Regions from separate parts of the Homo sapiens genome. Here all the other regions are linked to region 3. Evidence: fine-mapped expression QTL. A gene starts in region 3. Each other region holds a variant in brackets. All regions are shown on one strand. Distances are between the middles of the regions.

Evidence for each region. PIP is the estimated chance that this variant, and not a neighbour inherited with it, causes the effect.
Region 1: its variant is the best candidate, but not a certain one, in a credible set for the expression of STAP2 in skeletal muscle (GTEx, PIP 0.58).
Region 2: its variant is the best candidate, but not a certain one, in a credible set for the expression of STAP2 in tibial artery (GTEx, PIP 0.65).

What each region holds. Positions count from the first base shown.
Region 1 is chr19:4,251,838-4,262,571 of GRCh38, reverse strand. It overlaps YJU2 (YJU2 splicing factor homolog), which reads right to left. Exons shown (of 8, transcript NM_018074.6): 4 at 8,083-8,217; 5 at 4,149-4,330; 6 at 458-578. Among named protein-coding and RNA genes, the nearest start is that of YJU2, 10 kb to the right of the region's middle. The variant A/C (reference allele first, on the strand shown) is at 4,934.
Region 2 is chr19:4,228,107-4,238,840 of GRCh38, reverse strand. EBI3 (Epstein-Barr virus induced 3) reads right to left here and starts at 9,318. Exons shown (of 5, transcript NM_005755.3): 1 at 9,224-9,318; 2 at 7,518-7,650; 3 at 5,534-5,712; 4 at 4,017-4,174; 5 at 1,313-1,905. The coding sequence starts at 9,290. The coding sequence ends at 1,753. RefSeq lists enhancers at 7,544-8,045, 9,009-9,098. The variant T/G (reference allele first, on the strand shown) is at 5,268.
Region 3 is chr19:4,333,280-4,344,013 of GRCh38, reverse strand. It overlaps STAP2 (signal transducing adaptor family member 2), which reads left to right and starts at 5,187. Exons shown (of 13, transcript NM_001013841.2): 1 at 5,187-5,362; 2 at 9,970-10,041; 3 at 10,198-10,320. The coding sequence starts at 5,261. It overlaps MPND (MPN domain containing), which reads right to left and starts at 452. Exons shown (of 13, transcript NM_001300862.2): 1 at 414-452; 2 at 20-306. The coding sequence starts at 420. RefSeq lists a silencer at 311-600 and enhancers at 669-1,400, 1,421-1,540.

The DNA of each region.
Region 1 (10,734 bases), 81 kb after region 3:
GGGTGTTTTGGGCTACAGCCACAGGGTGGAGGAGTTAGGGTGCAGACTGGCCTTTTAAGAAAAAGTCAAGTTCTGGTCGGGCATGGTGGCTCACGCCTGTAATCCCAGCACTTTGGGAGGCCTAGGCGGGCGGATCACGAGGTGAAGAGATTGAGACCATCCTTCCCAACATGGTGAAACCCCATCTCTACTAAAAATACAAAAAATTAGCTGGGCTTGGTGGCGCGTGCCTGTAGTCCCAGCTACTCGGGAGGCTGAGGCAGGAGAATCGCTTGAACCTGGGAGGCAGAGGTTGCAGTGAGCCAAGATCGTGCCACTGCACTCCAGCCTAGGCGACAGAGCGAGACTCCGTCTCAAAAAACAAAAACAAAAAACAAAAGAAAAAGTCAAGCTGACCCCTGGCTTCAGTTGTCCCTAGTTCACCTGGGAGCCCCCAGGACTCAGGCACCCCACTTACCTCATCCAGGATGGCGGTGGGGTTGGGCCGAAGGGCTGGCTGCAGGGGCGAGGGAGCAGCCTCATCCTCTGAGTCGGAGTCCTCCAGCAGTCTTCGCTTTCTGGCTTCCTCCAACAGGGCCCTGTGGGATGGAAGATGGGAACTTGGACGTGCTCTGTTTGGGGAACAGTGCCTGGGATGTACCTGCTGGGGTGGCGAGGGGCCTGGGTGCCTGGAGACCTCTTCCTGCCCTCAGTGAGCAGGGGTGGGAGGGAGTAGGGGGAGCACAGATTACTTTTTTTTTTTAAGAGACAAGGTCTCACTCTGTCACTCAGGGAGGGTGAAGTGGCACAATCACAGCTCACTGCAACCTCAACCTCCTGGGCTCAAGCGATCCTCCCCACTCAGCTTCCTGAGTAGCTGGGTCCACAGGCGTGTTCCTATGCCTTATTAAATTTTATTTCATTTTATTTTTGAGACAGAGTCTCGCTCTGTTGCCCAGGCTGGAGTGCAGTGGCGCAATCTTGGCTCACTGCAACCCCCACCTCCCAGGTTGAAGCGATTCTCCTGCCTCAGCTTCCCAAGTACCTGGGATTACAGGTGCCTGCCACCACACCCGGCTAATTTTTGTATTTTTTTTTTCTTTTTTGAGATGGAGTCTTTGTTGTCCAGGCTGGAGTGCAGTGGCGTGATCTTGGCTCACTGCAACCTCCGCCTCCTGGGTTCAAGCGATTCTCCAGCCTCAGCCTACCGAGCAGCTAGGACTACAGGCACGCACCACCGTGTCCAGCTAATTTTTGTATTTTTAGTAGAGGCGGGGTTTCGCCATCTTGGCCAGGCCGGTCTCTAATTCTGGGAGTGGTTTATGTGAGAACCACAGTGTGAGAACTCTAATCAGGGGATATAGCTTCAAAGAAAATGTCTTTTAGAAAAATGTCTTGGGGCCAGACATGGTGGCTGATGTCTGTAATCCCTGTGCCTTTAGAGGCCAAGGCAGGAGAAATGCTTAAGGCCAGGAGCATGAGACCAGCCTGGGCAACACAGCAAGACCGCATCTCTGCAAAAAGGATTTTAAAAATCAGGGGCCTACATCCCCTTACCTGGGATGACCCCTTTGCCAAGCACTCGCTTGGTGAACTCCTACTCGACCTTCAATACCCAATGCAAGACGCTCTTCCTCTGAGAAGCTCATCCTCATAATTCAAGCTCACGCATCCTGGCTTCTCTCTCACCCAGATGGATGTTGTCCTGGGTATTGGTCTCCTTGTCCCTCTCCCTCCCCACACAGTGAGCTCCGTGAGGGCAGAGCACCCATTGGGACTTCCTTAACCCAGTGGTTACCACTTCCTCTATTTAAACATAAAACAGATTAAAGGGGCCAGATGCAGTGGCTCATGCCTGTCATCCCAGCTCTTTGGGACGCTGAGACGGGAGGATCGCTTGAGCCAGGGGTTAGAGACCAGCCTGGGCAACATAGCGAGACCCCGTCTCTAAAAAAATTAAAAATGTTAGCTAGGACTACAGGCACATACCACCATGTCCAGCTAATTTCTGTAGTTTTAGTAGAGACGGGGTTTCACCATCTTGGCCAGGCTGGTCTCGAACTCCTGACCTCAGGTGATACGCCCACTTCAGCCTCCCAAAGTGCTGGGATTACGGGCGTGAGCCACCGACCGCACCTAGTCTACTTTTTAATTTTCATTTTTTTTAGGAGGAATCTTGCTCTGTCGCCCAGGCTGGAGTTCAGTGGCACCATCTCGGCTCACTATAACCTCTGCCTCCCGGGTTCAGGCAATTCTCCTGTCTCAGCCTCTGGAGCAGCTGGAATTACAGGCATCTGCCACCACGCCCAGCTAATTTGTTTTTGTATTTTTAGTACAGATGGGGTTTCGCCATGTTGGCCAGGCTGGTCTCGAACTGCTGACCTCAGGTGATCCGCCCGCCTCAGCCTCCCACAGTGCAGGATGGCAGGCAGGAGACCCTGCGCCCGGCCCCTTCTACTTTTTTACATTAACTTTTCCGTGTCCACCGAGGGCAGTGGTGTGGTTAAGTGCCTGGATGCCGGAACCAGCCTGTCTGGATGGAGCCTGGAGGGTAACCTTGGTGGGGCTCATGCCTGGACCTCCCTGGACCTCAGTCCCCTCCATGATGAAGATCACACTGACCCCCAGGGCTGTGTGGGTAGTGAGGTTACAGCCACGCCCGGCACCCGGAAGGTGCAGGATGAACGCAGGCTCCCAACACTGTTCTGCACGGTATCGCTGCTCTGCACACCCATCAGGCACTGACGTGGAACCTACCAGAACCTACCTGCTGGAAGCCCTGGGGACACAGGAGAGGCCACCACGTCCCTGTCCTTACAGCTCAGATTCTAAAGGAGGGAGGGGAGATGAGGCACCAGGAAAGGAGGGGATCAGCACGCGGGCTCAGAGGTGGTCGGCGTCAAAGGCATTCACCAGCCAACCACAGGGGCTCACACGTGTCATCCAGCACTTCAGGAGACTAAGGTGGGAGGATCGCTTGAGGCCAGGAGTTCAAAACCAGCCTGTCCAACATAGCGAGGTCCTGTCTCTACAGAAATAAAAACAATTAGCTGGGCATGGTGATGTGTCCCTGTGGTCCCAGCTACCCAGAAGGCTGAGGCAGGAGGAACGCTTGAGCCCGGGAGATGGAGGCTACAGTGAGCTATGACTGCACTACTGCACTCCAGCCTGGGCGGCAGAGCAAAACCCCGTCTCAAAGAAAAAGAAAAGCGTCGTCCGGGCGCGGTGGCTCACGCCTGCAATCCCAGCACTTTGGGAGGCCGAGGCGGGCGGATCACGAGGTCAGGAGATCGAGACCATCCTGGCTAACACGGTGAAACCCCATCTCTACTAAAAATTACAAAAAATTAGCCGGGCTTGGTGGCGGATGCCTCTAATCCCAGCTACTCGGGAGGCTGAGGCAGAATGGCATGAACCCGGGAGGCGGAGCTTGCAGTGAGCGAGATGGCGCCACTGCCCTCCAGCCTGGGCAGCAGAGGGAGACTCCGTCTCAAAAAAAAAAAAAAAAAAAAAAAAAAAAAGAAAAGTGTTCACCCAGGAGGCCTGAGGCTGTGTCCTCAGAAGGCGGCTGGTGAGGGCGTCCCTTGGTGGGTGTCCGGGAGCCTGTGCTGGGGGCCTCCCACCCTCATGGATGGGACGGGCTCTGGGGCTTCAGCTGTTCCTGCAAACACCATGGTTTATGCGTGACCCCTGCTTTCCTCTGGAGTCTGGAATCCCGGCATGGGTGAGGCAGCGGGGGCTGTGGGACCAGGCCCCATAGGAACCCCACGCTGGGTCTCTAGGAGCTTCCCTAGTGATGGCGCCTTTCTCGAGTCCTCCAGGCTGGTGCTAGGGGATGAGGCGCGTCCTGCGAAGCTCCACCAGGAGAGGATCTGGAAGGCCTGGCCCCCGACACACCACACATGCCTTTCCCCTTTGCTGAATCTGCTGTGTCCTCTCGCTGTGACAAACCGCAGCCATGCGGGCGACCACGTGCTAAGTCACCGTGCCCGGCAGTGGCCTGGGACCCCCTCGAGAGACGCCACAAGGGAGAAAGTGAGATGGGCGGTGGGAAAGGGGTCCTTGCAAAGGCGACACTCCAGAGAGCGGGGAAAGGGTCTGGGGCAGAGGCAGCGCCTGCCGGGGCAGAGGCTGCGAGGTGGGGCTGGGTTGGGCCGGCCCTGACTCACGCGGTCTCCTGCTCGTCCTCCTCCTGCTGCTGCCTCCGCCGCTCCTCCTCCGACAGGCGGTGCTGCCTCAGCATAGCCTCGAAGTCCACGTGCGCCTGCCGCTGGTTCAGGTCTTTCAGCTCCTGGAGGTTCTCCAGCACCTCCATCTCCAGCTTGGAGTCCTTGGTCCGGTTCTCCAGCACCTGGCGGGCGCGGGGCGGCGGGGCTGAGTGCATGGGGATCGCACCACGGGGCAAACCCTGTCTGGCCTCGGGGGCCACTGCGGGCCACGGGAGGAACCCCTACCCCCACGTTTCCATCCTGCTCAGGGAACCCCCTGCCCATGCCCAGCGCTGTGTCCATTTCACAGGTGAGAACACTCAGGTCTGGGGAGGGAAAGTGACCACATGGGGCTGAGCAGTGGTGGAGCCGGGATCTGAGCCCTGGGGCAGGGTGGGGTGGAAAGAGGCTGGCTCTGGACCCAGGTGGCCTGGATTTCTGGCCTGGTGCCATCTTTCAGTAAGAATAATAAGGAAAAATTTGGCCAGGCACAGTGGCTCACGTCTGTAATCCCAGCATTTTGGGAGGCCGGAGCGGGCGGATCACCTGAGATCAGGAGTTCGAGACCAGCCTGGCCAACATGGTGAAACCCTGTCTCTACTAAAAATACAGGCTGGGTGTTATGGGTCACGCCTGTAATCCCAGCACTTTGGGAGGCCGAGGCAGACAGATCACTTGAGGTCAGGAGTTCAAGACCAGCCTGGCCAACATGACGAAACCCCATCTCTACTAAAAATACAAAAAGT[A/C]GCTGGGCGTAGTGGCATGTGCCTGTAATCCCAGCTACTTGGGAGGCTGAGGCAGGAGAATTGCTTGAACCCGGGAGGCAGAGGTTGCAGTGAACCAAGATTGCACCACTGGACTCCAACCTGGGTGACAGAGTGAGACTCCATCTCAAAAAAATAAATAAATAATAAAAATACAAAAATTATCCAGGCGTGGTGGCACACACCTGTAATCCCAGCTACTTGGGAGGCTGAGGCAGGAGAATCACTTGAACCCAGGAGGCAGAGGTTGACTGAGCTCAGATCGTGCCAATGCATTCCAGCTTGGGTGACAGAGCGAGACTCTATCTCAAAAATAATAATATTAAGGAAAAATTGTAAAAGACAACCTGAGCACCTACTGTACACCGGGCCCTGGGCTAAGAGGTTTCCATATGCCATCTCATTTAATCCTCACAACCCCCATTTTACAGAAACGGAAACTGAGGCTGAGGGAGGCGAGTCTGGTGGCCACGGGTCCCTGAGAAGTGGCTTTGGAGCCAGGCAGGTTGGGAGTGAATCCTGCCTGGCTGCTTCCCAGTGCTGTGACCTTGTTGTATTTACCCTTTGGAAAAATGGCAATTCTGACAGTTTAAAAGTATGTCCACAAACTCTCTGATGCTCCTCCATTTAAGGGGTGGAGGTGACTCCCCTCCCCTTGAGCAGGGGCTGGACAAGCTACTTGCTCTAATGGAATATGACAGAAATAATGGCACGTAACTTCTGAGACTAGGATGTAAAAGCACAGGCCTTCCTCCTTGCTCTCACTCTTGGGTCACATGCTCTGGGGTACGCAGCTGCCATGTTGTGAGGTTGCTCAAGCAGCTCCCCACACAGCGAGGAACTGAGGCTGACAGCCAACAGCCAGTAGAGGGAGCCAGTTTGCGAGTGGCTCCTCCAGCCCCAGTCCAGCCTTCAGATGATACTGCCCTGGCCAACACCTTGACTGCAACCTCATGGGAGCCCCCAAGCCACAACCATCCAGCTCAGCTGCTTCTGGATGCCTGACTCTCAAAAACTGTGGGATAATAAATGTTTGTTGTTTTCAGTCACTAAGTTTTGGGATAACCTGTTATGTAGCAATAGCTGACTAACACCAGGGTAAGAGCCCCTTGCTGTCAGTGTGGAGGTAACTAAATTCACACACAGACAGCAGTGCGACAGGCCCAGGCACACACCAAACCCTTGCCAAGGCTCATTTCCCTCCCTGTTGCTCTGCATGGCCATGGAAAATGTTGTATCTGGTCTGATGTGGCTTGCTCAGAAAACTCACATTTGGCAGGGGTGGGTGGGTCCAGGAATAGATAAGAATGGATGGGAAATATGGAAGCAGGAGGGGACAGCAGGGAACACAGTCATTTAAAAATCTGTTTTATATATATATGTGTATGTATATATATGTATATGTGTGTGTACATATATATATATATATATATATATATTTTTTTTTTTTTGCGACAGTCTTGCTGTCTTCCAGGCTGGAGTGCAGTGATGTGATCATAGCTAACTGCAGCCTCAACTTCCTGGGCTCAAGTGATCCTCCCGCCTCAGCCTCCCTAGTAGGTGGGACCACAGGTGCACACCAGTACACCTGCCTAATTTTTGTTGTTGTTGTTGAGACAGAGTTTTACTCTTGTTGCCCAGGCTGAAGTGCAATGGCGCGATCTTGGCTCACTGCAACCTCCGCCTCCTGGGTTCAAGCAATTCTCCTGCCTCAGCCTCCTGAGTAGCTTGGATTATAGGCGCGTGCCACCACGCCTGGTTAATTTTTGTATTTTTAGTAGAGACAGGGTTTCGCCGTGTTGGCCAAGCTGGTCTTGAACTCCTGACCTCAGGTGATCCGCCTGCCTCAGCCTCCCAAAGCACTTGGCTGATTTTTTTTTTTTTTTTTTTTTTGACACAGAATCTTGCTCTGTCACCCAGGCTGGAGTGCAGTGGCATGATCTCAGCTCACTGCAGCCTCTGCCTCCTGAGTTCAAGCAATTCTCTGCCTCAGCCTCCCGAGTAGCTGGGATTACAGGTGTCTGCCACCATGCCCGGCTAATTTTTTGTATTTTTAGTAGAGACGGGGTTTCACCCTCTTGGCCAGGCTGGTCTTGAACTCCTGACCTTGTGATCCACCTGCCTTGGCCTCCCAAAGTGCTGCGATTACAGGTGTGAGCCACCACGCCTGGCAAGCACCTGGCTAATTTTTTAATGTTTTATAGAGACAGAGTCTCACTATGTTGCCCAGGCTGGTCTTTGACTCCTAGACTCAAGTGATCCTCCTGTCTCAACCCCTAAAGTAGCTGGGACTACAGGTTCAAGCCACCATGCATGGCTCCTTTTAATATTTCTGAGAAAATACAAAATTGTCCTATTGGAAGTGAACATAATTTCTTTTATTTATTTATTTTTTTTGAGACAGAGTCTTGCTTTGCTGCCCAGGCTGGAGTGCAGTGGTTTGATCTCGGCTCACTGCAACCTCTGCCTCCCGGGTTCATGCAATTCTCCTGCCTCAGCCTCCCAAGTAGCTGAGATTACAGGCATGCGCCACCATGCTTGACTAATTTTTTTTTTTTTTTTTTGGAGACAGAATCTCACTCTGTCACCCAGGCTGGAGTGCAGTGGCGCCATCTCGGCTTCCTGCAACATCTGCCTCCCCGGTTCAAGCGATTCTCCTGCCTCAGCCTCCTGAGTAGCTGTAATTCCAGAAGCGTGCCACCATGCCTGGCTAATTTTTGTATTTTTAGTAGAGACGGGGTTTCACCATGTTGGTCAGGCTGGTCTCAAACTCCTGACCTCGTGACCCACCCACTTCGGCCTCCAAAAGTGCTGGGATTACAGGTGTGAGCCACTGCGCCCAGTGTTAAGTTTTAAAATTTTTAGTAGGAACAGGGTTTCGCCACATTGGCCAGGCTGGTCTAGGACTCCTGACCTCAAGTGATCCTCCCGCCTCAGCCTCCCAAAGTGCTGAGATTACAGGCATGAGCCACTATGCCTGGCCTCCTGGGGACATCTTAAAGTTTTACCAACCACGCCCCCCACCCCATCTTCCTTCCTTGGGGACCTGAGGCAGGAAGGGCACAACCATTGGCACACACACACACCCACACACACAGCGCCCATGAACACCTACATGGCCCCCGACTCACCTTCATGGGGTTGTTCAGCTCCTCGTCCTCCCGCTCCTTCTGCACCCTCTTCTCCTCCTCCTCCAGGAGCTTCTCAGCCTGGAAATTCCGCGTGGCTCCATGCTCCATGGTGTAGTCTGTGTTTTCAGGGTCTGTCTGCAGGGAGGATAGACAGACATCAGCTCCTACATCCCCAGGCACTAGAATCTTCTAAAGTACCACCAGCAGATCAGGGCCCCTTCTCTCTGATTTTTACTGGTTCTACTACCTTCTCTTTTTCTTGTCTTATTGCTTTGACTGGTGAGATTTCTTCCTAGTGCTCCTCCCATCTCCATGGGCAAAAATGCCCAACTCCCTGGCATGGACTTTAAGACTCTTCTCATCTGCCCACTGCCTCCCTGCATCCTCCACTCCCTACCCTTAACATGACTGCAAACAAACTCTCCAATGAGGCAGGTGGATCACTGGAGGTCAGGTATTCAAGACCAGCCTGGCCAACATGGAGAAACCCTGTCTCTACTAAAAATACAAAAAATTAGGCAGGGCAAGGTGGTGCATGCCTGTAATCCCAGCTACTCTGGAGGCTGAGGCATGAGAATCACATGAACCTGGGAGGCTGAGATCACACCACTGTACTCCAGCCTTGGCTACAAAGTGAGACCCTGTCTCAAAAAAAAAAAAAAATCTCCAAGGTTCTGCACATGTTGTGATTTCTGCCCTTTGTATTTATTAACACCTTTTCTTTGATTATAAATCACATGTACAAATATGTATACAGCATGCCCCTGTTTTTGTTTATTGAATAGAGAGGCTAAATACACCCTGGTATCTTAAATTACACACTGGAACAGAAAAGTGACATTAGCAGAAAAACTGAAATCTACCTTTGGTCTAAATGCTAATAGTAACACTATGTTTTTTATTTTTTTGGGGACAGGGTCTCGTGCTGTTGCCCAGGCCGGAGTGCAGCGGCAGGATCATGGCTCACTGCAACCTCAGCCTCCCGGGTTCAAGCAATCCTCTCACCTTAGCCTGCCGAGTAGCTGGGACTACAGGTATGCACCATCACACCTGGCTAATTTTTAAATTTCTTTTTGGTAGAGACAGGGTTTCGCCATGTTGCCCAGGCTGGTCTCTAACTCTTGGACTCAACCGATCCTCCTGCTTTGGCCTCCAAAGTGCCGGGATTACAGGCATGAGCCACTGCACCCAGCCACAGCCTACAATGTTAATGGTAACATTCCACCTTTAGTTTCTTTTTTTAATTAAAATTTGTGTGTGTGTGTGTGTGTGTGTGTGTGTGTGTGTGTGTAGACACGGACAGGGTCTCACTATGTTGCCCAGGCTAGTCTTGAACTTCTGGTCCCCAGCAATCCTCCTGCCTTGCCTTCTCAAAGCGCTGGGAGTAAGCCACCATGCCTGGCCCCACCCTTAGTATCTTACTGTGACAGATGTACCCTGGTTATATAAGATGCTAATATTCGGGGAAGTTGGTGAGGGGGTAGGTGAGAATTATCTGTACTATCTTTGGAACTTTTCTGTAAATCTTCAGGTATTTCAAAAAAAGTTTTTGTTTGTTTTTTTGCAGACAGGGTCTCACTCTGTCACTCAGGCTGGAGTATAGCAGTGAAATCATGGCTCACTGCAGCCTTGGCCTCCCAGACTCAATTGATTCTCCTGCCTCAGCCTCCCAAGTAGCTAGGACTATAGGCGCATGCCATCATGCCCAGCTAATTTTTATATTTTTTTGTACTGACGGGATCTCACTATGTTGCCCAAGCTGGTCTTGAATTCCTGGATTTAAGCGATCCTTCTCCCTTGACCTCTCAAAGTGTTGGGATTACAGGCGTGAGCCACTGCACCCAGCCAAAATATTATTATTATTATTAATTTATTTATTTATTTTTGAGACGGAGTCTCGCTCTGTCGCCCAGGCTGGAGTGCAGTGGCGCGATCTCAGCTCACTGCAAGCTCCGCCTCCTGGGTTCACGCCATTCTCTTGTCTCAGCCTCCCGAGTAGCTGGGACTACAGGCACCCGCCACCACGCCTGGCTAATTTTTTTCTGCTTTTTTTTTAGTAGAGACGGGGTTTCACTGTGTTAGCCAGGATGGTCTCGATCTCCTGACCTCATGATCCGCCTGCCTCAGCCTCCCAAAGTACTGGGATTAGAGGCGTGAGCCACTGCGCCCGGCCTATTTTTGTATTTTTTTTTAGTAGAGTTGGGGTTTCATCATGTTGTCCAGGCTGGTCTCGAACTCCTGACCTCAACTGATCCACTTGCCTTGGCCTCCCAAAGTGCTGATTATAGCTGTGAGCCACTGCGCCCAGCCCAAAATGTTTTTTTAATCAAAGAAAAAAAGCTTATGGCAAAAAAGTATTCAAAGAGTACTTAAGCATAGGAAGAGAAAATTTTAAGTTATCTTCAGTCTTTCCTTAAATTCTCAAGGTAACAAATAAAAGTCAAATTGCAATTTTTATTGGCTGTGTAATATTCCATTGCACGCTACTTTTTTTTTTCTTTTTGAGACAGAGTTTCATTTCGTTGCTCAGGCTGGAGTGCAATGGCGCAATGTTGGCTCACTGCAACCTCTCCCTCTCGGGTTCAAGCGATTCTCCTGCTTTGGTCTCCCAAGTACCTGAGATTACAGGCATGAGCCACCACGCCTGGCTCA
Region 2 (10,734 bases), 110 kb after region 3:
ATCTGAATGGATTCTTAATGGATTCTTTTTTTTTTTTTTTTTTCCGAGATCGAGTCTCGCTCTGTCACCCAGGCTGGAATGCAGTGGCGCGATCTTGGCTCACTGCAACCTCCACCTCCTGGGTTCAAGCAATTCTTCTGCCTCAGCCTCCCGAGTAGCTGGGACTACAGGCGGATACCCACGCCTGGCTAATTTTTTGTATTATTATTTTTAGTAGAGATGGGGTTTCACCATCTTAGCCAGGCTGGTCTTGAACTCCTGACCTTGTGATCCACCCGCCTCAGCCTCTCAAAGTGCTGGGATTACAGACGTGAGCCACCGCACCTGCCCCTGAATGGATTCTACTGTCCCACTCCAGGCGGAATCCCTGCCACCCCACCCTGGCATCCCCAGGCCCATGACGTCCCCTGGTCCAGCCCTGACACTATGGGAGTGGGGATTTGTGGTTTCTGTGTCCTTTGGTTTAGGGCTAAGTCCTCGCTGGATCTCCTCTAAGTGAAAAGAGGAGTCTTCATTTCCTTATTTTTTTCAGACGGAGTCTTAGTCACCCCATCGCCCAGGCTGGAGTGCGATGGCGCGATCTCAGTTCACTGCAACCTCTGCCTCCCGGGTTCAAGCAATTCTCCTGCCTCAGCCTCCCGAGTAGCTGGAATTATAGGCACCCACCACCACGCCTGGCTAATTTTTGTATTTTCAGTCGAGACAGGGTTTCACCATGTTGGCCAGGCTGGTCTTGAACTCCTGACCTCAAGTGATCCACCTGCCTTGGCCTCCCAAAGTGCTGAGATTACAGGCGTGAGCCACCATACCCAGCTGGAGTCTTCATTTCAACTATTATTTTTTTTGTTTTTGTTTTGAGACGGAGTCTTGCTCTGTTGCCCAGGCTGGAGTGCAGTGGTGCAATCTCAGCTCACTGCAACCTCCGCCTCCCAGGTTCAAGCGATTCTCCTGCCTTAGCCTCCTGAGTAGCTGGGGTTACGGGCTCAGGCCACCATGCCCAGCTAATTTCTGTATTTTTAGTAGAGACCGGGTTTCACCATGTTGGTCAGGCTGGTCTCGAACTCCTGACCTCGTGATCTGCCCGCCTCGGCGTCGGGATTACAGGCGCGAGCCACCGCACCCGGCCTCAACTATGATTAAAACAAACAAACAAACAAACAAAAAAACCAGGGTCTTGCTCTGTTGCCCAGGCATGAAGGCAGTGGTGTGACGACAGCTCACTGCAGCCTTAACCTCCTGGACTCAAGTGATCCTCCCACCTCAGCCTCCCAAGTAGTTGGGACTGTGGGCGCGCAACATCACACCTGGCTAATTTATTTTATATTTATATTAATTTTTTAGAGATGGGGTCTTGCTGTGTGGCCCGGACTGGTTTCGAGCTCCTGGCCTCAAGCTACCCTCCCACGTCGGCTTCCCAGTGACTGGGATTACAGGTGCGATCCACTGCGCCCAGCCCAACAACAATTCTTTTCTAATTAAACAATAAAAAATATCTCACAGTGACAGTTCAGTCAGCCCTGCACTGTGGTAAAGGTAAAGGTAAAGGAGAGAGTAGTACATCTCCATTTCTCAGCTAGAGAAACTGAGGCTCAAAGGGAAAAGTCGGTCATCTGAGGTTGCCCGGCAGCTCAGCAGCAGCAAAGCAAGGACTCCAGCCCAGGCTAGGCAGATCCCATCCGCCCTCCAACAGGTGTCCCGGGGCTTAGGGTGGCGAGGACCCAGGTGCTGTCTGGAGGCAGCGGGAAGCCCTTGCTACTTGCCCAGGCTCATTGTGGCAGTGGCGGGGAGACTCCAGTCACTCAGTTCCCCGTAGTCTGTGAGGTCCTGAGCCGCCACTTGGACGTAGTACCTGGCTCGGGGCCGCACAGCCCTGAGGATGAAGGACGTGGCTTCAATGGGCCCCACCTGAGAGAAGAGAGAGCGTCAGGTCACTAGAACCAGAAGATGGAGAGGGGCCACTGTGCACAGAACCACACAACGGAGCGTGCAGTCCTCCCTGCCCCCTGCAGGCTCCAGTCCAGGACTCTGGCCCCAGCTGTGCGGCCCCACCCCAAATAGCATCATGGGCTCCTCCCAATCCCGGCCTCTGTCTGTGTGGCCCCCAGAGCCACCTCTCTTACGAATCCTTCCTGGACCACACTAGCCCCTGTGGATGTCTCACCCAGGAGGGTCTTTGTTCATCAGGACATCCCTGATCCCTATAATCCTCTTCTTTCTCCTCCCTGGGACTAAACCAGGACCTCTGGGATAGGACCCCATACCTCCCTTTACCCCTGGTCCCACTATATTAACCATGCTTTTTTTTTTTTTTTTTTTTTTTTTGAGACAGTCTTACTCTGTTGCCCAGGCTGGAGTGCAGTGGGGCAATCTTGGCTTACTGCAACCTCTGCCTCCAGGCTCAAACCATCCTCTCACGTCAGCCTCCCAGATAGCTGGGATTACAGGCGCCCGCCACCATGCCTGGCTAATTTTTGTTTGTTTGTTTTTGAGACGGAGTCTCACTCTGTCACCCAGGCTGGAGTGCAGTGGCATGATCTCAGCTCACTGCAACCTCCACCTCCCGGGTTCAAGCCATTCTCCTGCCTCAGCCTCCTGAGTAGCTGGGATTACAGGCGCCCGCCACCACACCCGGCTAATTTTTGTATTTTTAGTAGAGCTGTGATTTCACCATGTTGGTCAGGCTGTTCTCGAATTCCTGACCTCGTGATCTGCCTGCCTCAGCCTCCCAAAGTGCTGGGATTACAGGCATGAGCCACCGCGCCAGGCCAATTTTTGTATTTTTAATAGAGATGGGGTTTCACCTGACCTCAAGTGATCTGCCTGCCTTGGCCTCCTAAAGTGCTGGGATTTCAGGCATGAGCCACTGCACCTAGCCTAACCGTGCTTTTTATTTTATTTAATTTATTTAAGTTGGGAGACAGAGTCTCTCTCTGTTACCCAGGCTGGAAGGCAGTGGTGCCAACACGGCTCACTGCAGCCTCAATCTTCCAGGCCCAAGTGATCCTCCCACCTCAGCCTCTTGTAACTGGGGGTACAGGTGTGTGTCACCACACCCAACTAATGTTTAAATTTTTTGTAGAGATGGGAGTCTCACTATGTTACCCAGGCTGGTCTCCAACTCCTGGACTCAAGCAATCCTCCCAACTTGGCCTCTCAAAGTGCTGGGATTACAGGTGTGAGCCACCCTGCCCAGCCAGAATTGTTCACTTTAAAATGGCTAATTCTGGCCAGATGAAGTCCTCACACCTGTAGTCCCAACACTTTGGGAGGCCCAGGCAGGTGGATCACCTAAGCTCCGTAGTTTGAGACCAGCCTGGGCAACATGGCAAAATCCCATCTCTACTGAAAATACAGAAATTAGCCGGGCGTGGTGGGCGCCTGTAGTCCCAGCTATTCAGGAGGCTGAGGCAGGAGAATCACTTGAACCTGGGAGGCGGAGGTTTCAGCGAGCCAAGATCGCGCCACTGCACTCCAGCCTGGGTGACAGAGCTAGACCTTGTTTCAATCAATCAATCAATAAAGTGAACAATTCGGTGGCTCACGCCTGTAATCCCAGCACTTTGGGAGTCCGAGGCAGGCAGATCACCTGAGATCAGAAGTTCGAGACCAGCCTGGCCAACATGATGAAACCCCATCTCTACTAAAAATACAAAAATTAGCCGGGCATAGTGGCACGTGCCCGTAATCCCAGCTACTCCAGAGGCTGAGGCAGGAGCATCGCTTGAACCTGGGAGGCGGAGTTTGCAGTGAGCCGAGATTGTGTCACTGCCTGGGCGACAGAGCGAGACTCTGTCTCAAAACAATAACAACAAAAACGGGTGTGCGACAGCTTGTGCAAGTCCCTGCTTTCCATCCTTTTCGGTAGAGGCCTAGGAATCAGATTGCTGGACTGCTCTTATTCAATGCACCCGGAATCGCAAGCTATGTGCAAGAGCCCAGCACACCTGCTAGTCTTGGTAAAAACCATTCCCTCTGCCAGGCACCACCCTTTCCAGCCTCCCCCTCATCCTCCTCACCCGGTGGAAGCGCGCAGCTCCCTGACGCTTGTAACGGATCCAGTACTTCAGTGAGAAGATCTCTGGGAAGGGCCAGGACCCGGGAGGCTCCCACTGCACCTGTAGCTGGCGCTCAGCGAGGGGGCTTAGGCGCACGCCTTCTGGAGGGTCGGGCTTGACTGACGGACAAGCAGGAAGCAGGGTCAGGGGACAGTAAGTCCAGTCATTCATTCATTCACTCATTCATTCAACCAACATATTATGTATATATTTTGTTTGTTTTGAAACGGAGTCTCACTCTGTCACCCAGGCTGGAGTACAGCGGCGTGATCTCAGCTCACTACAACCTCTGCCTCCCAGGTTCAGGCGATTCTCCTGCCTCAGCCTCCCGAGTAGTTGTGAGCCACCATGCCTGGCTCAACCAACAAATATTTATTGAGAAACTGTGTGCCTGGGGCTGCCACAGAGGGGACAAAACAGTGACCTTAACTGACCTACCCCTGTCCTCATGGAACTCACAATCCATCAGGGGGAAGACAGGAAATAAACAAATCCATAGGTCACACAGAATAGGGAAGAAAGCTGGGGAGTGCAGGAATGGCAGTGGCCGCAATTTTTGTTTTGTTTTGTTTTGTTTTTTGAGATAGAGTCTCGCTCTCTCGCCCAGGCTGGAATGCAGTGGCACAATCTCAGCTCACGGCAACCTCCACCTCCTGGGTTCAAGTGATTCTCGTGCCTCAGCCCCCTGAGTAGCTGGGATTACAGGCACCTGCCACTATGCCCAGCTAATTCTTGTATTTTTAGTAGAGGCAGGGTTTCACCATGTTGGCCAGGACTGGTCTCAAACTCCTGACCTCAGGTGATCGGCCTGCCTCAGCCTCCCAAAGTGCTGGGATTACAAGTGTGAGCCACTGAGCCTAGCCAGAGCTTGCAATTTTTAATAATCTACTCAGGAGAGGTCTTACTGAGGAGGTGATGTATGCACAGAGACCCGAAGGAGGTGAGGGAATAAGTCATGGGGACATTTGGGGGAAGGTGTTCCAGGTAGAGGGCACCGCCCATGCAAAGGCCCTGGGGCAGAACTATTCCTGGCATGTTGAACATCAAGGAATCACATGTGGCCACAGCAGAGTGAGCAAGGGGGAGACAGGGAGGAGGGGAGGGCATGGAGGAGACAGGGCAGGTTGTCCAGGGTTTGGTGGGCAGTAGGAAGGACTTGGGCTTTGACCCCAAGGCAGGTGGGAGCCATGGAGGGCTGTAGGCAGAGGGACG[T/G]GCCCTGACTCAGGTGCTCTCAGGCGCCCTCTGGTGGCTGCTGTGGGAAGGACAGACTGTGGAGGCCAGGGCTCAGGATGGAGGGGACTGGGCTGTCAATGATGGGGGTGCTCCACGTACTGGTAGAGGAGGGGGAAGAAGGGGTCAGATTTTTGCTTAAGTGTGAAGGTGCAGCCGCAGGACTGGAGGACAGGTGGGAGGTGGGGTGGGGGGAGCTGGAAGGAGACGGCAGCCCCGCCCCCGCCCCCACTGCCGCCCCCACTCACTGATGTGCTCTGTTATGAAAGGCACGAAGCTGCTGCTGGAGCCCCAGGGGTGGACGGCGGTGACATTGAGCACGTAGGGAGCCATGGAGAACAGCTGGACATCCGTGATGGTGCAGCTGGTGGACGTTGGCGTCTGCTGCAGGCAGGGCCAGCTGTGGCCCCGGGCAGCCATGCCGAGCCTGCACAGGGTGGGGCTCGCTGAGCGCCTCAGGGAGTGCCTGTGGCCTCAGCACCTCCTACTGCCGGGCCTGACCCGGGACCCCAAGGAGAGGCAGGAACAGGAGGGGGCAGCGGATGGGGATCCCGGGGTGGGGTCCTGGTGGTGGCCGTGCCACCCCCCGGGGGCAGGGCATGGGCCCCAACATCACGGTGCCCCTGATGGTTCAGGTCGGGGATTACAACCCAAGCTAGATGCTAGGGTCCGGGATTCTAAAGGTTTCTGGGATGTCAGCATTCATTCATTCATCCATCCATTCATTCATTCATTCATCCGTTCATTCATTCATTAATTCATTCCTTCATTCATTCATTAATTCATTCCTTCATTCATTCATTAATTCATCCCTTCATTCATTCATTCATTCATGACAGGGTCTCCCTCTGGCGCCCAGGCTGGAGTGCAGTGGCATGATCCTAGCTCATTATAGCCTTGAACTCCTGGCTCAAGGGATCTTCCCTGTCTCAGCCTCCAGAGCGGTTGGGACTACAGGCACGCATCACCACTCTTGGCTAATTTTAAATTTTTTTTCTACAGATGGGGGGGGGTCTCAGTATGTTGCCCAGGCTGGTCTTGAACTTCTGGGCTCAAGTGATCCTCCCACCTCGGCCTCCCAAGTACCTGGGACTACAGATGTGTGCCATTACATCCAGCTAATTTTTTTGATTTTAAGTACAGACAGGATATTGCTATGTTGCCCAGGCTGGTCTCAAACTCCTGGGCTCAAGTGATCCTCCCACCTCAGCCTCCAGAGTAGCTGGGACTACAGGCAAGTACCAACATGCCCAGCTAATTTTTTTTTCTTTTTCGAAATTTTTTCTTTTCTTTTCTTTTCTTTTCTTTTCTTTTTTTTTTTTTTTTTTTTTTTGAGACGGGGTCTCACTCTATCACCAGGATGCAGTGCAGCGATGCAATATTGGCTCACTGCAACGTCCACCTCCTGGGTCAAGCAATTCTCCTGCCTCAGCCTCCCGAGTAGCTGGGACTACAGGCGCGTGCCATCACACCTGGCAAATTTTTGCATTTTTAGTAAAGACAGGGTTTCACCGTGTTCGCCAGGGTGGTCTCCATCTCCTGACCTTGTGATCCGCCCACCTCGGCCTCCCAAAGTGCTGGGATTACAGGCGTGAGCCACCGCGCCTGGCCATGCCCAGCTAATTTTAAAAATTGTTTTTAGAGACAGGGTCTCACTATTTTGCCCAAGCTGGACTCAAACTCCTGACCTCAAGTGATCCTCCCACATCAGCCTCCCAAAGTACTGGGATTACAGGCATGTGCCACTGTGCCCAACCCAGGAAGTAGTTTTTTTTTTTTTTTTTTGAGATGGAGTCTTGCTCTGTTGCCCAGGCTGGAGTGCAATGGTGCCATCTTGGCTCACTGCAACCTCCGCCTCCTGGGTTCAAGCTATTCTCCTGCCTCAGCCTCCGGAGTAGCTGGGATTACAGGCATGAGCCACTGCACCTGACCAATTTTTAAAATTTTTCGTAGAGACAGTGTCTCACTACGTTGCCCAAGCTGGTCTCAAACTCCTGACCTCAAGCAATCTGCCCACCTCGGCCTCCCAAAGCGCTGGGATTACAGGCATGCACCACTGTGCCTGGCCCAGAAAGTATATTTCTATTGGACGGGGCCGCCCTAGAATTCCATAGGCCTGGGGTTCAGGATGTCGGGGTCTCCAGTTTTCCTGACCCCAGGGCTCTCAGGGCCAGAGTTCTGGGCTCTCCAGGAAGTCCAGTGTCCCTGAGGCCCCCTTCCAGGCTCTCCGACCTGTACGTGGCAATGAAGGACACGGGGCTGGTGGAGTTTGGAGCAGGCGGCAGGGTCCAGGAGCAATCCACGGCGATCGGGTACCGAGAGGCTCGGCATTGCACCCGGGGCAGTGTCAGAGCTGCTGGGGGCCCTGGAGGAAGACAGAAAGAGTGAGCTTCTGGTTTACCCCCAGATTGTCATAGCCCTCCCGTGCGCTGGGCTCCTGCCACGTTGCCAGCCAGCACCAGGTACATGGTAGGTGCCTAATAAAGGCTTTCGGAATAAATAGGTACATGGACAAAAGTCATCTGTCATCTTTTATCCCCACTGCAATCCATCTAGGTGAGGACTACTAGCCCATTTTCCAGATAGGGAAGCTGAGGTTTAAGCATCTACAGAGAGGAACTCGGGTAAGAGAGAGAGATTTTACCGTGTTCTCTCTTTTGTAATTGTTTTTTTTTTTTAAAGAGGGAGTCTCCCTCTGTCGCCTAGGCTGGAGTGCAGTGGCGAGATCTCGGCTCACTGCCACCCCCGCCTCCCGGGTTCAAGCGATTCTTAGCCTCCCGAGTAGCTGGGATTACAGGCATGTACTGCCACGCTTGGCTAATTTTTGTATTTTTAGTAGAGAGGGAGTTTCACCATGTTGGCCAGGCTGGTCTCAAACTCCTGACCTCAGGTGATCCACCTGCCTTGGCCTCCCAAAGTGCTGGAATTACAGGCGTGAGCCACCAAACCCAGCCTATAAATTATTATTATTATTATTATTTTGAGACAAGGTATCCCACTCTGTCACCTAGGCTGGAATGCAGTGGCACAATCATAGCTCACTGCAGCCTCCAATTCCTGGGCTCAAATTATCCTCCCACCTCAGCCTCCCAAGTAGCTGGGACTACAGGCACGTGCCACCACATCTAGCTAATTTTTTAATTTTTTGTACAGATTGGTGGGGTCCGGTTTCACTATGTTGCCCAGGCTGGTCTCGAATTCCTGGCCTCACGATCCTCACGCCCTGGCCTCCCAAAGTGCTGGAATTACAGGCATGAGCCACCATGCCCTGCTGTAACCATTTTGTCTTCAAGGACATGGAGATGTTCTCTAGTGCAAAATGAATGAATGTCGGCCGGGCGCGGTGGCTCACATCTGTCATCCCAGCACTTTGGGAGCCCGAGGTGGGTGGATCACCTGAGGTCAGGAGTTCAAGACCACCCTGGCCAACATGGTAAAACCCTATCTCTACTAAAAATATAAAAAGTAGCCGGGCATGGTGGCGGGCACCTGTAATCCCAACTACTCGGGAGGCTGAGGGAGGAGAATCTCGCTTGAACCCAGGAGATGGAGGTTTCAGTGAGCTGAGATGGTGCCACTGTACTCCAGCCTGGGCGACAGAGTGAGACTCTGTCTCAAAAAACAAAACCAAAAAGAAACCAAAGGAATGAGTGTGACTCAAATTCGCATGTCTGTGTAGCTATGTCTGTGTAGCTCTATGGATACCTCTGAGCTGTGACTGCCAGTCCCTATCACCCACAAGGTGACATCCTTCCACCCCCAATGTGGCACTCTGCCTCTCTGTGCCTCAGTTCCTCCATCTGTACAATGGGAGGGTAACCCCATCCCACCATTGGGCACGGGAGGATGTGATTTCCCACCCCAGACATGATCCGAGGCCAGTCCTCGTGTCATGTCCGTCTGCCTGGGCCCCCCAGTCCCCCAGGGGCCCCACATACCTTTCCTTCCACTGCAGGGCGGGCAGCTGGCCCAGAGGACAAGGGCCAGGAGAAGCTGCGGGGTCATGGCTGCGGCCAGCTCTGCTCTCAGGAGTGGGTGGGAACGTCGTGGGAGACTTGAGAGGGGAGGTGAGGACTTGGGACCTGCCCAGGGGAAAGCCCAGCCCAGGGTCAAGGCCCGCCCCCTCCCCGACTTCCTTCAGGTCTGACTCACTGGTGGGGCTCGTGGGGCCGCTAGGGAGATGAATTAGGGTGTGGAGGAGCCCCAGCCCCCTGGGGAGCACAGGCCACCCCTGCTCGGAAGGCCCCGAGGGTGGGGGCGGGGGAGGAGGCTGTGAAAGGGAGAAGTGGAGACCTGCTGGCTTTTCCCAGCACAGCATGTCCTGCTGGCCTTCCTTCCGCTGCCCTGAAGCGGGGGAAACCCCAGGCAGGCAGGCAGGGGCTCAGGGACATGGAGGGAGACAGAGGCAGAGATGGGGGAGAGAGGCAGAGAGACAGAGAAGACAGAAGGAAGACACAGAGAGACAGGGAGATGACAGAGACAGAGACACAGAGAGAGACACAGATGAGAGAGGCAGAGAGACAGAGACAAGAAGAGGAGGACACAGAGATAGAGGGATACAGAGACAGGGAGATGACAGAGACAGAGACAGAGAGACACAGATGAAAGAGGCAGAGAGACAGAGACGAGAGGAGGAGGACACAGAGATAGACAGGGAGATGACAGAGAGACACAGAGACACAGATGAAAGAGGCAGAGAGAAAGAGACGAGAGGAGGAGGACACAGAGAGAGAGAGACAGAGACAGGGAGATGACAGAGACAGAGACAGAGAGAGACACAGATGAGAGAGGCAGAGAGAAAGACAAGAGGAAGAGGACAAAGAGATAGAGAGACAGGGAGACGACAGAGACAGAGAGAGATACAGATGAGAGAGACAGAGATGAGAGGAGGAGGACACAGAGATAGATAGAGACAGGGAGATGACAGACAGAGAAAGGGGCATGACAGAGACAGAAACACAGAGAGAGACACAGAGATGAGAAAGGCAGAGATGAGAGGAGGAGGACACGGAGATAGACAGGGAGATGACAGAGACAGAGACAGAGACAAAGATGAGAGAGTCAGAGAGACAGATGAGAGGAGGACACAGAGATAGAGGGATAGAGAGACAGGGAGATGACAGAGACAGAGAGAGCTACAGATGAGAGAGGCAGAGAGACAGATGAGAGGAGGACACAGAGATAGAGGGATAGAGAGACAGGGAGATGACAGAGAAAGTGACAGAGATACAGATGAGAGAGGCAGAGAGACAAATGAGAGGAGGACACAGAGATAGAGAGAGACAGAGACAGGGAGATGACAGAGACAGAGAGAGATACAGATGAGAGAGGCAGAGAGACAGAGACGAGAGGAGGAGGACACAGAGATAGAGAGACAGGGAGATGACAGAGACAGAGAAAGGGGGATGACAGAGACAGAAACACAGAGAGAGACAGAGATGAGAGGAGG
Region 3 (10,734 bases):
AGGGAGGCGGGGTGCTCACCAGGTAGTAGATGGACAGCACCCCGGCGCCAGGCTCCAGCAGCGCGTCTTTGAGGAGCACCCGCAGTGTGACCGCGCGCCTGGTGAGCGCGCCCCCGGGCCCGCCGCAGCCCCCCGCCCCGGCCCCGCCGCCGCCGCCTCCTCCGCTGACGCTACTGCCGCCGCCGCCACTGCGTCCACCGCCCGCTCCCGCATTCGGCCGCTCAGGGTCCTCGGCCTCCGCTTCGTCCTCGTCCTCCTCCGGCGCCTCCTCGCCCGCACCGCCCGCCGGGGACAGCGGCTCCGGAGCTGCGGACAGCGAGAGGCTGCAGGGAGGCCGCTCGCCCCACGGCTCTGCAGCCCCGCGCCCCTGCAGCCCCGCGCCCCGCGCCTCCGCCCCGCTGGGCCCGCCGTACCTGCCATGGCCGCGCCTCCCCGCGCCCGGAGCTCTAGACTCCGGCTTCCCGGCACGTCACGCGGCCCCGCCCCGGGGAGGGGAGGGGCGCCCCAACCATTGGCCGTCGCCGGGGTCGGGGGAAGGGCTCGGCGCGCTGGGGTGGGCGGAGAAACTGAGGCCTCGGGGATGCCCACGCGGGAGAGAGATCGGGAACTCAGCCCTCTGGGAACATTCGGGAAACTGAGGCGTGACGGGGTGTTGACCGGGAGCTCATTGGTGCGAATGGGGAAACTGAGGCCTCGCTGTCCAGGGATAGAGGTTGCAAGGTGGAAGCCTGGGGCGGGTGCGCGAGTGGCTCAGCCTGCTGCAAGGAGAGGAGAAGGTGAGACCTGCGGTCACCGCACTTGAGGAACTCAGAGGCCTCGGCCTTTAGGACCAGGGGAGAAACTCAGGTCCAGGGGAACAATGCGGACTCCAATAGGGAACAGCCTCGCGCAGACACAGGTGGAGCCAAAGAGCCCAAGCCGGCCTCAGTCGCTAAAGAATTAACTCCCACCCTCCCGGGCGGCCCTCGACTGATTCCATGATTGGACCGTTGCGGAGCCCGCCAGCCAATGATAAGAGTCCCATTTATTTCACCCTCAACCAATCGATAGCAAGCTACTGGATTCCCGCACCAACCAATCCGTGTCAACTATCTGATTACACCAACTCGGATTTGACCAATGGGCAGACGTCCATGTAAACCAATCAGTAGAAACCCTTAGTTATGAGCGCAAACCATCAGAGGCAGGGACTGGACTCACCAGCCAATCAGCTCCGGGTATAAGGCCAGCCGAGTCCGGCCCTCCATACCCTTGGGCGGAGCAGGAGGCAGGGCCGGGCTCGTTGCGCGCCTGATCAGTGCAGCCCCGGCCTTTGTCCCCTACCCTGTTTCTGCAACTACATCCCCGACCCTGTCCTGGGACCTTCGTCCCGGAGCCCAGGCTCTGGGATTTCCCTCAGTCCCTGGCAGGGTTGAAAGTCCGGGATGGGGACTTCCTAAAGCTCCGGGACGCCGTGGGATGGGCTCAAGTGCGGGTGGCTTTGCCCAGACCGCAGTCGGGAAGTGGGAACTGGACAGTAGGGGTGCGGGGGAGGCTCTCCAGGGTGCTCGGGAATGTTCTCAGGAAGAAGACTTGACATAGAGCAAGAGCTGGGTACATGTGAACTATTGTTGTCCAGCCCAGGCACCCTTTAGGGGCCCCACCCTGACTGTCCAGCCAACAACGGGCATCCCCAAGGCCTGCAGACTCAGCATAGCCCAAACCGGCCTCAGTTTATTTCCCCAACTCCTTACGCACTTTCTCTTTGGCTTTTTTTCCGTCCCCTGCCTTCCAAAACCCTGAGCCACACCTCCAGCCTCTTGCACCCAAATCCTGGCCATCGCAGTGAGTCTCAGGCCTCCAAACTCATGCCCCACCCTGTCGGTCTTCCACCATTGCCCCAGAGGGCTCTTTCTAAAATGCACCTATTACCACCTCCCTCCCATATTATTATTTTGTTTTCTTTTCTTTTCTTTTTTCTTTTTTTTTTTTTTTTTTTTTTTTTTTTTTTGAGACGGAGTCTCGCTCTGTCACCCAGGCCGGAGTGTAGTGGCAAGATCTTGGCTCGCTACAACCTCTGCCTACCAGGTTCAAGCGATTCTCCTGCCTCAGCCTCCCAATTAGCTGGGACTGCAGATGCACATCACCACACCCAGCTAATTTTTGTATTTTTAGTAGAGAAGGGGTTTCACCATGTTTGCCAGGCTGGTCTCGAACTCCCAACCTCAGGTGATCCACCTGCCTCAGCCTCCCAAAGTGCTGGGATTACAGGTGTGAGCCACTGCGCCCAGCCTATTTTCTTTTCTTTTCGAGACAGGGCCTTGCTCTATCTCCCAGGCTGGAGTGCATTGGTGTAATCATGGCTCACTGCAGCCTTGGCCTCCTGGACTCAAATGATCCTCTTGCCTCAGCCTCCAGAGTAGCTGAGACAACAGGCGTGACCAGCATGCCTGGCTAATTTTTAATTTTCTTGTAAAAGAAGGGGATCTCACTATGTTGCCCATGCTGGTCTCCAAGTCCTGGCCTTAAGCAATCTTCCCACTTGGGCTCCCAAAGTGTTTGGATTACAGGCGTGAGCCACCGCACCCTGCCCTCCTCTCATGCTGTAAATCCTTCTGTCGCTCCACATTGCCTTAGACAAATACAATAAAAACTAACCACCCTGGCTGGGCACAGTGGCTCACGCCTGTAATCCCAGCACTTTGGGATCACTTGAGGTCAGAAGCTGAAGACCAGCCTGACCAACATGGTGAAACCCCATCTCTAATAAAAACAAAAAAATTAGCCGGGGGTGGTGGCAGGCACCTGTAATCCCAGCTACTCCAGAGGCTGAGGCAGGAAAATCGCTTGAACCCGGGAGGCGGAGGTTGCAGTGAGCCGAAATCATGCCACTGCACTCCAGCCTGGGCAAAAGGAGCAAAACCCTGTCTGAAAAAACAAACAAACAAAAAAACGAAACAAAAATCAACTCTCTGACCTTACTTAGTATAGCTGATACTATCAACTTTATCAGACAGTTCAGTGGATGAACACATTGCCACAGTCCCACGGCCTTTCTGTGATTTCTAGAACACCTGTTCTGCTATGTATACAAAGTCTAGCCCTGGTAACTACTAAGGAAATTGAATTTGTAATTTAAAAACTCCCAAAAAAGCAATCTCCAGACCCAGATGGTTTCACTAAGGAATTCTGCCAAAGGTTCAAAGAAGAATTAACACCAATTTCACATCATCTCTTCCAGAAAATTGAAGGGGACACTTCCCTGTTCATTTTATGGAACTATGACCCTGATACCAAAACCAGATAAAGACGGTACAAAGAAAGCAAGCTACACCCCATATCCCTCATGAAGACGTGCAAAAATCCTTAACAAAATATTACAAAGTAGAATTTAACAATATATAAAGTGAATTATACACCATGACAAGTGGGGTTTACTCCAGGGACCCAAGACTGATTCAGTATTCAAAATTAATCAATTGTCCACCATATTAAACAGGCTGTGGTAGGCAGAATAATGGTCTCTTAAAGATATCCACGCCCTAATTCCCAGAATCTGTGAATACGTTAGGATACGTGGCAAAGGGATTTGAAGATTAAAGATAGACGCCAGGCACAGTGGCACACACCTGTAACCCCAGCACTTTGGGAGGCCTAGACTGGAGGATCACTTGCACCCAGGAGTTCAAGACTAGCCTGAGGGCCGGGCACGGTGGCTTATGCCTGTAATCCCAGCACTTTGGGAGGTCGAGGCAGGTGGATCACAAGGTCAGGAGATTAAGACCATCCTGGCTAACACAGTGAAACTCCATCTCTACTAAAATAAAAATACAAACAAATTAGCTGGGCATGGTGGCACGTGCCTATAATCCCAGCTACTCGGGAGGCTGAGGCAGGAGAATTGCTTGAACCTGGGAGGCAGAGGTTGCAGTAAGCCGAGATCGCTCCACTGCACTCCAGCCTGGGTGACAGAGTAAGACTCTGTCTCAAAAAAAAAAAAAAAAAAAGACCAGCCTGGGCAACATAGCAAGAACCTGTCTCTAGTAAGTGTAAAAATTAGCTGGGCGTGGTGGCAGGCACCTGTAATCCCAGCTACTTGGGAGGCTGAGCCAGGCGAATGGCATGAACCTGGGAGGCGGAGCTTGCAGTGAGCCGAGATCACGCCACTGCACTCCAGCCTGGGCTACAGAGCGAGAGTCTGTCTCAAAAAAAAGAAAAAAAAAAATTAGCCAGGTGTGGTGGCATGCAACTGTAGTACCACCTACTCTGGAGGCTGAGGCTGGAGGATCACTTGAGCCTGTAAGGTCGAGGCTACAGTGAGTCATGATCGCCCCACTGTACTCCAGCCTAGGCAACATAGTGAGAACTCATCCTTAAAAAAGGAAAATAAATTAGCTGGGTGTGGTGGTGCCCACCTATAGTCCCAGCTCTTCGGGTGGCTGAGGCAGGAGGACCGCTTGAGATTGGGAGGTCAGGGCTGCAGTGAACTATGATCGTGCCACTGCACTCCAGCATCGACAACAGAATGAGACACCGTCTAAAAAAGAAAAATTGCAGATGAAATTAAAGTTGCTAGTCAGCTGACTTTAAAATAGGGAGAGTAGCGTGGATTATCCAGGTGGGCCCAATGTAATCATTAGGGTCCATCAAAGTAAGAGAAAGGGCCAGGTGTGGTGGCTCATGCCTGTAATCTCAGCACTTTGGGAGGCTGAGGCGGGCAGAAAACTTGGGGTCAGGAGTTCGAGACCAGCCTGGGCCAACATGGGGAAACCTCGTCTCTACTACAAATACAAAAATTAGCCAGGCGTGGTGGCGGTCACCTGCAATCCACGCTAGTCAGGAGACTGAGCTTGGACTCAGTCTCTGAACCCGGGAGGCAGCGCAGTCTCTTGAACCCGGGAGGCAGAGGTCGCAGTGAGCCAAGATCATACCACTTTACTCCAGCCTGGGCAACAGAGTGAAACTCTGTCTCAAAATAGGAAAAATAGATAAATAAATAAATAAAGAGACAGACCATGTCTCTGTCTTTGCAGATATAGCGAAGATTATTCTCCCATTCAAGTAGACTTATACATTCTCTCTGTTCTCAGTTCCACACCGGAGAGGCGGGGATTTCCCTAGGATCACTGGACCTGCTGGGATCAGCCTCTGCCCAGCCCTGGCAGGGGAGGGAGTTGACGGGCTGACACAGGAAACTCCCCTGAAACCTGTTTCTCAGCTTCCCGGCCCAGCTGGGGCACCCACTGGAAGGAGAGGCCAGGCGGAAGACCCTGGCTCCGTCATGGCCTCTGCCCTGAGGCCACCCCGTGTCCCCAAGCCTAAGGGTGTCCTGCCTTCACACTACTATGAGAGCTTTCTAGAGAAGAAGGGGCCCTGTGACCGGGTAAGGTGGGGAGGCGGGGGCTGGCCCTGCTGGGCCACCGTGGGGAGCTGCGGCACCTCTCTGAGTCCCTGTCTCCCCACTCGCCAAGGGGGGGCGGGGTGGGTGCTGGATGGGGCAGGACACGTGCTGGGGGACTGGGGTGGGTTCTGGCCATCTGCCTCTCTGTGCGTCTATCTCTGTCTCCGTGTGTCTTTGAATTTGGTTTCTTTTTCTCTTTCTCTCTCCCTGGCCCCGTCTGTCTCTCCCGATGTCTGTCTCAGTCTCCCTCTCTCTTTGTCTCAATCTTTGCTTTTGTCTCTCGTTCACTCTCTTGAATACAAACAAGATCAGGGACTTCCTCCAGGAAATGGGGAGTCCTCTGACTCCCGAGCTTCCTCCCGCTCCCAGCCCAGGAAAAACTCCGTGAACCTCAGCTGCTGGGGCGAAGGCCAGGACAGGTGACATGTGAGGACAGTAAGAGCTAGCGGGGGCCACATTCCACAGGACAGATAGTTGCCATGGACAGTGCGTGCATGTGTGTGTGTGTGTGTGCTTATGTCTCCCTCAGAATAAAGTCCCAGCCCCTCCGTTCCCCGTGAGGCCCTATCTCTCCTTCCCAATGCCGCATATTCATTTTCTTTCTTTCTTTTTGTTAGAGACAGAGTTGCTCTGTCACCCAGGCTAGAGTGCAGGGGCACGATCATGGCTCACTGTAGCCTCAAACTCCTGGGCTCAAGTGAACCTCCCGCCCCAGCCTCCTGAGTAGCTGGGACCACAGGCATGCACTGCCTCTTCTGGCTTTTATTTTATTTATTTATTTTTGAGACTGAGTCTCACTCTGTCACCCAGGCTGCAGTGCAGTGGCACCATCTCGGCTCACTGCAACCTCCACCTCCCAGGTTCAAACGATTAAGCGATTCTCGTGCCTCAGCCTCCCGAGTAGCTGGGATTACAGGTACGCACCACCACACCTAATTTTTGTATTTTTAGTAAAGACAGTGTTTCATTTTGTTGGCCCGGCTGGTCTTGAACTCTTGACCTCAGGTGATCCACCTGTCTCGGCCTCTCTAAATGCTGGGATTACAGGCATGAGCCACCGCACCCAGCCTTTTTTTTTTTTTTTTGAAGATGGGGTCTTGCTGGCCAGGCGCAGTGGGTCACACCTGTAATCCCAGCACTTAGGGAGGCTGAGGCAGGTGGATCACCTGAAGTCAGGAGTTTGAGACCAGCCTGGCCAATATGGTGAAACCCCGTCTCTACTAAAAATACAAAGATTAGCCGGGCGTGGTGGTGCGTGCCTGTGATCCCAGCTACTCTGGAGGCTGAGGCAGGAGAATCACTTGAACCTGGGAGGCAGAGGTTGCAGTGAGCCAAGATCGTGCCACTGCACTCCAGCCTGGGCAACAGAGCAAGACTCCGTCTCAAAAAAAAAAAAAAGATGGGGTCTTGCTATGTTGCCCAGGCTGGTCTCAAACTCCTGGCCTTAAGTGATCCTCCTGTCTCAGCCTCCCAAACTGCTGGGATTAGAGGTGTGAGCCACCATGACTGCCTCATTTTCTAATACAGATCAAAACAAACACCCCCAGCTCCTCCCTGCCCATGTCCCCGCCTCTGCCCCTGAGGTTCCCTTACCTGTAGTGGAGTAGACTTTCCTTCTACCTCCATACATCCAAATCCTCCCCAACCAACAAACCCTTTAGAGCCAGTAGATCACTGCAGTTAAGAAAGATAATGGGGGAGGCCGGGCTTGTGGCTCACGCCTGTAATCCCAGCACTTTGGGAGGCCGAGGCAGGCGGATCACCTGAGGTCAGGAGTTCAAGACCAACCTGGCCAATATGGTGAAACCTCGTCTCTACTAAAAAATACAAAAATTAGCTGGGTATGGTGCCAGGCGCCTTAATCCCAGCTACTTGGGAGGCAGAGGCAGGAGAATCATTTGAGCCTGAGAGGCGAAGTTTGCAGTGAGTCAAGATCAAGCCATTGCACTCAAACCTGGGGGACAAGAGCGAGACTGCTCTCAAAAACAAAAAGAAAAAAAAAAGAAAAGAAAGATAATGGGGGCCGGGCGTGGTGGCTCACGCCTGTAACCCAACACTTTGGGAGGCCGAGGTGGGAGGATCACTTGAGGTCAGGAGTTCAAGACCAGCCTGGCCACATGATGAAACCCCATCTCTACTAAAAATAAAAATAGCTGGGCGTGGTGGTGTGCACCTGTAATCCCAGCTACTCGGGAGGCTGAGGCAGGAGAATTGCTTGAACTGGGGCGGGGGGGTTGCAGTGAGCTGAGATGGTGCCACCGCATTTCAGCCTAGGTGACAGAGTGAGACTCTGTCTCAAAAAAAAAAAAAAAAAAAAAAGGCAGTGTGCAGTGGCTCACGCCTGTAATCCCAACACTTTGGGAGGGCGAGGCCGGCGGATCACTTGAGGTCAGGAGTTCGAGAACACCCTGGCCAACATATAGTGAAACCCCACCTCTACTAAAAAATACAAAAATTAGCTGGATGTGGTGGTGCGCACTTGTAATCCCAGCTACTTGAGAAGCTGAGGCAGGAGAATGGCTCGAACTGGGAGGTGGAGGTTGCAGTGAGCCGAGATCGCACCACTGCACTCCAGCCTGGGCGACAGAGCAAGACTCTGTCTCTTAAAAACAAAACAAAACAAAACAAAAAAGATCATGGGCCCGAATTAAGAAGACCCAGGTTCTAATCCCGGCTCCACACTTTCCTTACTCCCAGGCCTTATGCAAGTGACTTAATCTTTGAGCCTTAGTTTTCTGTCTTCTGAAATAGGGAGTTAGGGCTGTAGTCACAGTTCACGTGTTGAGGACTTGACTCAACGCAGGCCCTGGTGCTTCCCATGTGGAAAGTCACCTAATTCTCATGAGATCCTCCAGAGTTGGCACCATTATTATCACCATTTTACAGCTGGGGAAACAGACAAAGACAGCTCAAATAACTTGCCCAACAGCACATCGTGGGTACATAATGAAGCAATACAGTGTTTAATCCTGTATTGCTCTAGTCCCAGTGCCTGGAGCAGGGCTGGCACATAAAAAGCCTTCAGTAAATGTTAGGTAAATGCATGTGTGTATCTGTGCTTGTGTCTACGGATGGACAGGTGGATGGGTAGATGGGGGGATGAGTGGAGGCTTGGTGAATACATGCGGGCTTGATGGTGGCTGAGAGGATGTGTGGGTGGATGGATGAGTGCATATACAAGTGGGTGGATGGATGGATGGGGGAGTGGATGGATGGATGAGTGGGCAGACGGGTGGGTGGGTGGATGATGGATGGATGAACAAGTGCATGGATGAATGATAGATGGATGAATAGGTGGATGCACGATGGAGGGATGTATGGATGGATGAACGGGAAGATGCGTGGGTGGGTGGATGGTGAATGGATGAATGCATGGATGGATGATGGATGGATGAGTAGGTGGATGGATGATGGAGGGATGAGTGGATGGATGGATGATGGATGGATGAGGGATGGATGGATGAGTAGGTGGATGGATGATGGAGGGATGCATTGATAGATGAGTGGATGGATGTATGGATGGATGGATGGATGAGTGGGTGGATGGATGAGTGGGTGGATGGATGATAGATGGTGGGTGGATGATGGAGGGATGGATGGATAGGTGGATGGATGGGTGGATGGATTGATGAGTGGGTGGATGGATGAGTGGGTGGATGGATGAGTGGGTGGATGGATGATGGACGGTGAGTGGATGGATGGATGGATTATGGAGGGATGGATGGATGGGTGGATGGATGGATGAGTAGGTGGATGGATGGAGGGATGCATTGATAGATGAGTGGATGGATGGATGAGTGGGTGGATGGATGAGTGGATGGATGATGGAGGGATGGATGGATGGGTGGACAGATGGATGTGTGGGTGGATGGATGACTGGATGGATGGTGGGTGATGTAGGTATTGATGAATGACTGGATGGATGGATGATGAATGGCTCCATGATGGATAGATGGATGGATGGGGGTGATGGACGGATGGATGAGTGGGTGGATGGATAGATGAATGGATGAATGGATGGGTAAATGGTAGGTGGATGGATGAATGGGTGGGTGGGTGGATGAATAACTGGATGGATGGATGTGTGGATGGGTGGGTGGGTGGACGGATTGGTGGATGGATGGTGGGCAGATGGATGGATGGATGAATGGGTGAATGGATGGGTCAATGGTAGGTGGATGGATGAATGGGTGGGTGGGCGGATGGACAGATGGATGATAGATAGATGGCTAGTGGGTAGCTGGATGATGAAAGATGAATGGGATACCATTAAACCAGTTAGTTAACTTACCCCTAGAGCACCCATCTCTATAGATTGGCGGGGGTTGCTCTGAATCCCTCATCACATCGAGGTTCCGTCTGGTCCTTTCTCAGACGAAAACAGACACCCAGAAGCTGGGCCATGGGTGGGGAGGATCTCCCTGAGAAGGTACATTTGATCAGAAACTCAAGGCAGGAGGTAATAAAGATCTGGGGGCAGCGTGGGGCAGAGAGCACAACCAGTGCAAAGGCCCCGAGACAGGATTGAGTACATGAAAGGCACTCAGCTTGGCCAGCTCACCTCTTCTTTCTGCACTTCTGGTCCCTAGGATTACAAGAAGTTCTGGGCAGGCCTGCAGGGTCTCACCATTTATTTCTACAATAGCAATCGGGACTTCCAGGTAAGGATGGGAATGGAGGCTCCAGAGCAGGCCTTCCCTTGAGCCCAGAGACCAAGCAGACAATGTAGATGGTGTGGTCAAGGTGGCTGCTACATCATCCAGGGGGCCTGGAGGCCAAGGAACTGGTGCCCAGATCCCCTGCTTCTATGCCCCCAGCACGTGGAGAAGCTCAACTTGGGAGCATTTGAGAAACTCACAGATGAGATTCCCTGGGGAAGCTCACGTGACCCTGGCACCCACTTCAGCCTGATTCTCCGGGATCAGGAGATCAAGTTCAAGGTAGGTCCCTTGCTGGAGGGGTGCAGAGGGGCGGTGCTTGCAGAAGATGCTCAAATGCTCCTACCCTCCATTGTGCCAACCACGAAGGGGCAGGTAGTACAGGGCCCTGTGGGCCCTGGGTAAGACTTGGGTCTTGACCCCAAAGGAGCTGGGTGCTATGGGAGGGTTTATTTTATTTTATTTTATTACTTTTTTTTTGAGACCAAGTCTCGCCCTGTCACCCAGGCTGGAGTGCAATGGCACGATCTTGGCTCACTGCAACCTCCACCTCCCAGGTTCAAGTGATTCTCCTGCCTCAGCCTCCCAAGTAGCTGGGATTACAGGCGCACGCAACCACTCCTGGCTAATTTTTTGAATCTTTAGTAGAGATGGGGTTTCACCATGTTGGCCATGCTGGCCTGGAACTCCTCACCT